Linked DNA regions of Homo sapiens: regions 2 and 3 are each linked to region 1. Evidence: fine-mapped expression QTL. A gene starts in region 1. Each other region holds a variant in brackets. All regions are shown on one strand. Distances are from middle to middle. Region 1 holds the start of USP31 (ubiquitin specific peptidase 31). Region 2 overlaps USP31 (ubiquitin specific peptidase 31). Region 3 overlaps USP31 (ubiquitin specific peptidase 31).

Region 1 (2,760 bases):
AGAGGAGAGTGGAGCCGATTAGGGACAGTGCAGAGCACCCTGGAGATGTCATCATAGAGCCCTACTTACATTGGGGAGGGAGGTCAAAGGTAAAAACCATTTACTTTGAAACGTGGTGTAAGGTGGCCTTCATGTTTTAAAAAGGAGGAAGGGCTCTCCCTTCTCTGATTTCTCTCTTCTGCCTCAGGACTCAGACTAGCCCTTTTAGCAGAGGGGAGCCTATAGAGAGGAGGTCATATACTAGTTGATTTTGGACTAAAGGCATCCCAAAGATGTACTATTTTTTGCTCCCTGCACTATTTTTTTTTTAATGGAACCAACGTTTAAAAATAGGATTTCTGCCTTCTCTTAAAACATCAGATGATCTGGTAACGCTGAGCTCCTGTTCTCACATGGGAACAACTGGCTGGAGCTGAGTGGCAGCCACCTCTTTAGAAAGATGTTAATTTGAAGTCTGCTATAGTCCCCATCATTCCTTATATTTCCCCCAACACTGAGACCCAAGTCACTTGAAAGTCAATATGATGATTCAAACACCAGGATTCTTCACTCATTTGTGGGTTTGTGACCTGTGATATTTGTGGATTCGTGACCTTTGGTTTAGAGGTCAAGTATAGGGGTTGTAAATAAAACTTGGGTTTGAATCAGATAAGAACTGTACCAATCTCAAAGACGGTGAATTAAAGATTAAAGAAAATATTGCATGCTTGGCATAATGTGTGGAACACAACAGCTATTGTAAACACCCAGTAGGAATGTAAGCTGCAAGAGGGCAGGTAGAAACCGTGCTAATTTAATCCGCTGGGGATATGACATTTGATTCTAATTTAATAGGTTTAATTCTTTGCAATATCCCCAGTAACTGCTGAATGAATGAGTGAGTGAATGAATGAATGGAATGATGAATGATGGGAGAGCCCGGAGGAGTTTTAAAGGCTGGAATGAAAAGGAAAGTAGTTATGATAACAGCGTTTCGCTGGGACTCCAAGGTGCAGCCAGGAAGAAAAGCCCGCTGGGACGTGCCAGGGTCTGTGACTGCGCTCCGCTGGCACCCAGAGGGTAGGTATCTGCAACGTCCCTTGGGAGCCAGACAGGGCTGACTTGCCCAGGACCTGTCAGGGCCATGTCCACCAGCTCTTGCACGGTCTGGTAACTGACAGCATCCTGATTCCTGCACGTTCCCGCCTCTGCCATCTGACCAGCAAAGACAGAGACCCACCCCGGGGATCCACCATCCAACGGGAGCCCAGCCTTTTCCTCCAAGCCGGGACGGCGCCCACACTAGACATGGCCTCCCTCGGGCTTCACGCAGCAGGACCGCGCCCGCAGCCTCCAGGCATCGCGTCCGGCTGGAGAGGCAGCTACCGTCCCACAGTGAACATGGCGGCCGAGGCGGCTTCAGCGCCGGGCGGGCGGCGCCGGGAGGCACGTCACGTGAGCGGCTCAGCTGGGCGGACCGCGCGCGCGCCCGCTGGCCCCGCCGGCCGCCGCTCGCTCGCTGGCTCGGCTGCGCTTTGAGGTGTGTGGGGCGTCGAGCCCCCGGGCCCGGTGAGGCGCGGCGCTGCGGGATGCGGCGGCGGCCGTGGCGGGGCCGCGGGCCGGGCGGGCGGGCGCGGTGATGAGTGTCTGCGGCCGCCGCCATGTCCAAGGTAACGGCGCCTGGGTCCGGGCCGCCGGCGGCGGCGAGCGGGAAGGAGAAGCGCTCCTTCAGCAAGCGGCTGTTTCGGAGCGGCCGCGCTGGCGGCGGCGGCGCGGGGGGCCCCGGGGCGTCCGGGCCGGCCGCGCCTTCCTCGCCCTCCTCGCCCTCCTCTGCACGCTCGGTGGGCAGCTTCATGAGCCGCGTTCTCAAGACGCTGTCCACGCTCTCGCACCTTAGCTCTGAGGGCGCCGCCCCAGACCGCGGCGGCCTCCGCAGCTGCTTCCCGCCCGGGCCGGCCGCCGCGCCCACGCCGCCGCCGTGCCCGCCGCCGCCCGCCTCTCCCGCGCCGCCCGCTTGCGCCGCCGAGCCGGTGCCCGGCGTGGCGGGGCTCCGCAACCACGGCAACACGTGCTTCATGAACGCCACGCTGCAGTGCCTCAGCAACACCGAGCTCTTCGCCGAGTACCTGGCGCTGGGCCAGTACCGGGCGGGGCGGCCCGAGCCCTCGCCTGACCCGGAGCAGCCTGCGGGCCGCGGCGCGCAGGGCCAGGGCGAGGTCACTGAGCAGCTGGCGCACCTGGTGCGGGCCCTCTGGACCCTGGAGTACACCCCGCAGCACAGCCGCGACTTCAAGGTGAGCCCGCGCGCCGCCGCGCCCCCACTGCACCCCGAGCCCCTGGGGCACCTGCCCGCCCAGGTCTTCCTTCCCTCGGTTCCTCTTGGCCCGGCAGGCTTCTGCATTGGTTGCTCCGAGTGGTCTGGGCAGTCGACCAGTGATTTTAAGGAGATTCATTCATTCATTCATTTATTCACTCACTCACTCACTCAAACATGTATTTATTGAGAACTTACTACATACGTGCCCATACTCTGTGATAATAGGCAATGGGAGTGACGTTGCAATGAACAAGACTATCCGCCTTCATGGAACTTGCATTTTTGTGGGGTGGGAGTGTTGAGCATGGGTTCAAATCCTGGTTCTGCCACTTACTAGCAATGTGACGTCGGGTAAGTTAAGCAGCCTCTCTGTTCTTACAGTTTCTTCATCTGGGGGACCTACTTTGTAAGGTGGTTGTGAGCTGCAAACAAGTTAATATATTAAATCGAACACTGTGGAATTA
Region 2 (2,760 bases), 78 kb after region 1:
TCTGAATGCAGAGTTTGACTTCAAGAGAGCGTGACAGAGGATTGGAATGTGGTGATGTGCAATCAGGTTAGGGGCTATGAATCCTTGCTTCTCTTGAAGCTTGCAGGGGGTGAGTTCAAAGCAGTGAAAACAAGGCATCTCTCAAGCAGAATGACGCCCTGCTGGGGGCCAAGCCCACCCAGTGTACAGCCACTCACTCAGTTAACACAGCGGGAACTCCAGTGCTCTTCCACCAGTCTCAGATGTGCTCAGAAATGACACCTTCTTGAGGTCTACTTGAGACAGTCATGCTGCTTCATGTACTCTGTTTCAAGAGCAATTTCTCTTGCCCTAATAAATATTTAAGGGCGTCCCTGGAACAGACAGGGCAGATTGACATATAGCTGTGTGTGTGTATTATTAATATTATGAAAATGGTGACAAATTTCCTTAAAACAGGCTGAGAGAAAAAGAGTATACTGCCGCATCCTCTCTTCTCTTTGTGTAAGAAATATTACTGCAATTGCTTAGAACAGTGCCTGGCATGTAGATGCTTCATAAATATTTGTAGAATGAATGTATGAGTGCTTGTCTATTCCATTCTCTTGCCAATTCTTTAGACTCAGACTTACATTATAAAGTATTCATCCCTATCCTTGCATTTTATTACTACAAATTTCATGCGTCAGGAAGTCTGCCTTACATCTTTTCATCTTAACTGGGGATATTCGGACAGGCACGACATGACACAGGGTCTGGGAATTGATGCTGACCTCGGGGTGAGGACATCAACGCCCCCCAGCTCAGCTCGTAACACCTTCATGAGGGTGTGTGTGGCTCAGGGCTGGCCGAGGGACCCCAGCCTGACCTCTATGCCTGTTTTCTTCTCTGCAGGCTCCACAAGTTCTTCCCTGTGTGAACACTGGGTGAGCCGGCTCCCGGGCAGCAAGCCAGCCAGCGTGACCTCTGCAGCTTCCTCCAGACGCACCTCCCTGGCGTCGCTCTCTGAGTCCGTGGAGATGACTGGAGAAAGGAGTGAAGATGATGGTGGGTGTGGGTTTTGGTGACAAATTTCCAGAATGGTAACTCACAGACACAGCAGAGTCCCTCGTGTTTTTCCTAGGAGCTAAGTCCCAAGGAGATGGTAGGAGAACCCAAAGGGAGCTACAGGGAGTGGAGCTGTGTAGCTGTGAGTTATGATCCTAAAAAGCATTTTGTATTAACAGAGTCATTTGCTTTTCCTGTGTCCCAGTACTTTCTCCTTCCACTTCATTATTTTCCACTTGTAAGGTCTCTTGTGGAGGCTGGAGCTTTATATACCAATGTATACTTTTTTTTTTTTTTCCCAAAGTGTTTTAAAAAGCAGGATAGCTGGAAGAGGCTCAGAGAGATTGTGCTTTGCCCAGGCCACGTGGTGGGGAGTCGGCTCCAGGCTTGGCA[T/C]GGAGGCCCCTGGCTCTCTTGGCCCCAGGAGAGCCTCACCTTCCAACATGCTGCTCCCCAGGGAGGAAGCTGTGGAATGTTCTTTTTAGTACAGAAGCATCTAAAACAAAAGCTGTTGTTGCCTTTGCATAGAGATAGTAAAAAGTCCGATAAAAATTGAACTCTTTTTTTTTTTTTTTCTTTTTAAACTTTCACTTTCTGCTTGGGTAATGGCAGGATAGACCTTAGTTTCGACAGGGACCCAGGTGGTGTGGGAAGGACCGGGCAGCCACAGTACTGGGAGCTGGAAGGAGTGAGTGCAGCTTCTATAATGAGCATAGTGACTCAATCTGCCAACAAGTCTCAGTCTGCAGCCAGCATTTCGATCACTGTAATCTGCTTCTAGTGGTGATGGATAATTCTGAGAAAATGAAATTGAGTTAAAATTGCAATAGGCTGGAAGAAGAATGCCAGGTGAAGAGAGCTGCACCATAGCTCTAGCTCTGCCACCTCTTCTGGCTTGTTGCCTCTTCCTCTTTATTTGTAAAATAAAAACATTGGACTGCAATTCCTAAGCTCCTTCCGGCTCCTCACATCTTATGGAAAACTGACTGGTGAACCTTTGCTTGTTTAGGCAGAGGTTATTTTCAGTACTGCCTTTAAACTTAGAATTCACTGTCATTTTAACGATAAGCCTCAATAAGGTTTGCCTCAGTCTATTTTTAAGCAGTGCAGTTGGTGAAATCAGTATCCTTTTAAGCATCATCATTGTATAATGGTGCTGGGTGGTGCCCACAGAATAGAGCCTGTTTCTTAGGCTCTATAAAGACAGAATTTTGTAAATATCACAACTGTAGTATCATTGTGTAGAAAATTTAATTTAGAATATTTTCTTAGGACGTTTTGAGCCACACCAAATAGGAGTATGTGGTTCTGATTATGAGTATTTTTTTTTTTTTTTAAACGGAGTCTGTCTCTGTCTCCCGGCTGGAGTGTAGTGGCGCGATCTCGGCTCACTGCAAGCTCCGCCTACCAGGTTCACGCCATTCTCCTGCCTCAGCCTCCCCAGCAGCTGGGACTACAGGCACCTGCCACCACACCTGGCTAATTTTTTTGTATTTTTAGTAGAGACGGGGTTTCACCATGTTAGCCAGAATGGTCTCGATCTCCTGACATCGTGATCTGCCCACCTCAGCCTCCCAAAGTGCTGGGATTACAGGCATGAGCCACCACGCCTGGCCTCTGATTATGAATATTTTTTTGGAAGTTTTAAGTTACTGGATTTAGGAGTATATGATATCCAAGTCTTTTTAGCTCTTTGCGTTGATCCACATCTGTAGTCAACAATGACAGGCCAGCTTA
Region 3 (2,760 bases), 85 kb after region 1:
TCGATGCTGTCATTGCGTTCAGCCCAGCACATCACAGCCCCATCAGTGTGTAGCCACCGCTCTCGTTTTTCTGTATCGCTTTTATCTCCTGAAAAAGATGCACCAAATAAGAGATCATCTATATCAGGAATTGAATGTCTAACTCAAACCTCTCATTTTTGTTTAATAGGTAGATCTCATTTGAAGTCTCCTATCTGAATCTCTGAAACAATTATAGTTTGATTAGACAAAGGTTTTTAATAACACTTCTTTTTTGCTGTAGTCAAGCATTAATAGAAACTAGTTTAATTTTCACAGTGGTAAATATTTTTATTCTTGAGTTATCTAGGAATGGATTTTCCACGATGTCTAGTGACTTAAAAAAAAAAAGGAAAAACGTTTCTACAAATCCCTTTGGTTTTCCATGGGATCTGGAATAAAATGTCAGTGTCTATAAACTGTATGTCATGGAGTTTAGTCCTTGTTTCAGGTTTAATAGAAAAAATCAGGAAGTATCATGGCATTGTCTAGACATCATGAAGCTATTTTATTTCCATAGTTGGTAAACAGTGAAAATTTCATTATCTCCAACTACTAGGTACAACTTTAGGCCACAGGAAAGGTTATTTGGCCCGAAAGTTTGGAGGTGCTCCTTGAGGTGGGAAGTATCTTGTGGGAAAGTAGTTACTTGATTCAATTTAGTTCATTGGTAGGGTTGGGGACTTGGTGTTGGTTTCTTTCTTTCTTTTCTTTTTTTTTTTTTTTTTAATTTTCCCAGCAATATTTAGCACAATGAGCGTGTATGTGCTTTGGGGTTAAAAATTATCTGCTAGGGATGATAGGCCTGGGTTTCTCGTTGACATCTAGATGGGCCTGATTAGAGCAGTCATCTCCTGGTAGGCACAAAATAATCACCAACAGTAATGTTGTATCTGTAATGTTTGTTTGCTTTTTAAAGTTTTATTCTTGATTTCTTGTAAACATCCATTGCACTGAGGCCGTATCATTCCTTAAGACAGCCCTACATCTTGCCTTGGTAATCCCTTAGATAATGTGGAAACTCAAACCGTTAGGCTCCAGTCATCTTAGACCATTTCCCATCCGTTTTGTATTTTCTCGTCCTGAAAGCAGCTGAACTGAAAGTAAGTAATAATATGCTGGACCAGTGGGAACGGATGTGGGAGTATTTGTGGTGTGCTAAAATACTGTAATTATCTGTGAGGCTGCCTGACACGCTTTTGCAATCTTGTTTTCATCATTCATTCTGCA[A/G]ACGTTTATGGAGGGCCTTCTTTGAGCACAGAGGCAAAACTGAAAGCTTCAGGGATTTGCTGTAGCTGAGGAGCCCTGGGAGCACAGCCCATCAAGCAAGGGATGTGATGGTGTCCTAAATGGAGTGACAGTTCTCCTGGGAAAAGAGATCACGTGGATTCCGGTCAAATCGGCTAAGGCTTGTGGTTCTCTTGAGCAAGTCTGTTCCTTCTGGAAACCAAAAGTGCCCTTCATCTTTAGAGACATTTTACTCTTCCATCCACCTTTTCAGACTGAGCTGTCTCTACTATTTAGGGGTTGAAAATCCATTACACAGTCACTTTACGTTAACATTGGGTCATCTTATGTTTGTATGAGACGGATGTGGGATTTGAGGGGAACATTGTCATTCCCTTAAAATAACTATCATGAAAAAAATAGCAACAGTATGTAAAGGGACCAAGAGTGGCAGCCTTTAGGGAAAATGGAGCAGAGAAGAGCTGTGAACAAAGCTCATTTATTTGAAATAAGCGTGCTTTATTTCACATAGAGGGGCATCAGACGTTACATTTCATTCGGACAAATTACTGAACAGCCGAAGTGATTGTTTCCAATGTAGGTTATTATAATTATTGGATACAAAGATTTAACTAGTGTTTCTGGGTTGGATTTTTGAAATAGTATGCAAGTCATAAGCACAGTTTCAATAAAACACGTATTCTGGAGGTGCGTGGAACTTTGTATTATTTGTAGTTGAGAAAGGCAAACTTTGCTGACAAACCAGTACCTATCACAAACGAACACAAAAAGTAGCTGTTACTGTGCAGGCTGTCTTTAACTTTCATTTCATAAAGGGTACATTATTGTTAAACTCTACTACATGGTTTGGGGAGAAATCCAGTGGTTTTATTTAAATGAACACTCTCACACTGCCTTTTGATCAACTTTCAAAGTATTTTGCAGATGCATTTTGAGCATGACCATTTTTTTCCCCAAGTAAAAACAATTGTGCGTGGCCTCCATATAACTCAGAAAGCATGCTCTTACTACCTATGCAAGCAAACAATAAAACATATAGACATGAAATGTTAAGTCTTAAAAAAAAAAGGCAACAATTATGGAGCTCTATTTTTAAATTTGTGATTTTCAAAATATGGCTTACTCATCATTGTGTAGAAGAGCATGAATGCGATTTCTTGTTTTGCTCTGCATATATTTCTCTGCTGTTTTTCTGATCATTGGCGAGATTGTAAAGTATTTTGCAAGCAGAAGTGGAATTGGATATGTTGAACACACATCATTGGTGTACATACTGTATTTAGCCTGAAGACTTTCCTAAAGTGTTTTGTTCTAAAAATAACCTGCCATTTTCTATAGATTTTAATTTTTTATATCTTCAAGGGTTCTATTTTGGTCACAAGGAAAGAATGTGGCTTCTAATAGTGCTAAGAATTAAAAGATGCTTTTATAGAGACTTAGAGCTATTTTGAAAAGCTTTGGGGCTTCCCAGCCACTGATCACAATTAGACTAAG

Evidence for each region.
Region 2: its variant is fine-mapped to the expression of USP31 in transverse colon (GTEx, PIP 0.99). The same link has a PIP of 0.9 or more in esophagus mucosa and thyroid.
Region 3: its variant is fine-mapped to the expression of USP31 in whole blood (TOPMed, PIP 0.97).

What each region holds. Positions count from the first base shown.
Region 1 is chr16:23,148,151-23,150,910 of GRCh38, reverse strand. USP31 (ubiquitin specific peptidase 31) reads left to right here and starts at 1,459. Exons shown (of 16, transcript NM_020718.4): 1 at 1,459-2,273. The coding sequence starts at 1,641. RefSeq lists an enhancer at 1,059-1,278 and silencers at 1,459-1,558, 1,709-1,758, 1,859-1,958, 2,089-2,318.
Region 2 is chr16:23,070,311-23,073,070 of GRCh38, reverse strand. It overlaps USP31 (ubiquitin specific peptidase 31), which reads left to right. Exons shown (of 16, transcript NM_020718.4): 15 at 874-1,026. Among named protein-coding and RNA genes, the nearest start is that of USP31, 78 kb to the left of the region's middle. The variant T/C (reference allele first, on the strand shown) is at 1,420.
Region 3 is chr16:23,063,309-23,066,068 of GRCh38, reverse strand. It overlaps USP31 (ubiquitin specific peptidase 31), which reads left to right. Exons shown (of 16, transcript NM_020718.4): 16 at 1-2,760. Among named protein-coding and RNA genes, the nearest start is that of USP31, 85 kb to the left of the region's middle. The variant A/G (reference allele first, on the strand shown) is at 1,249.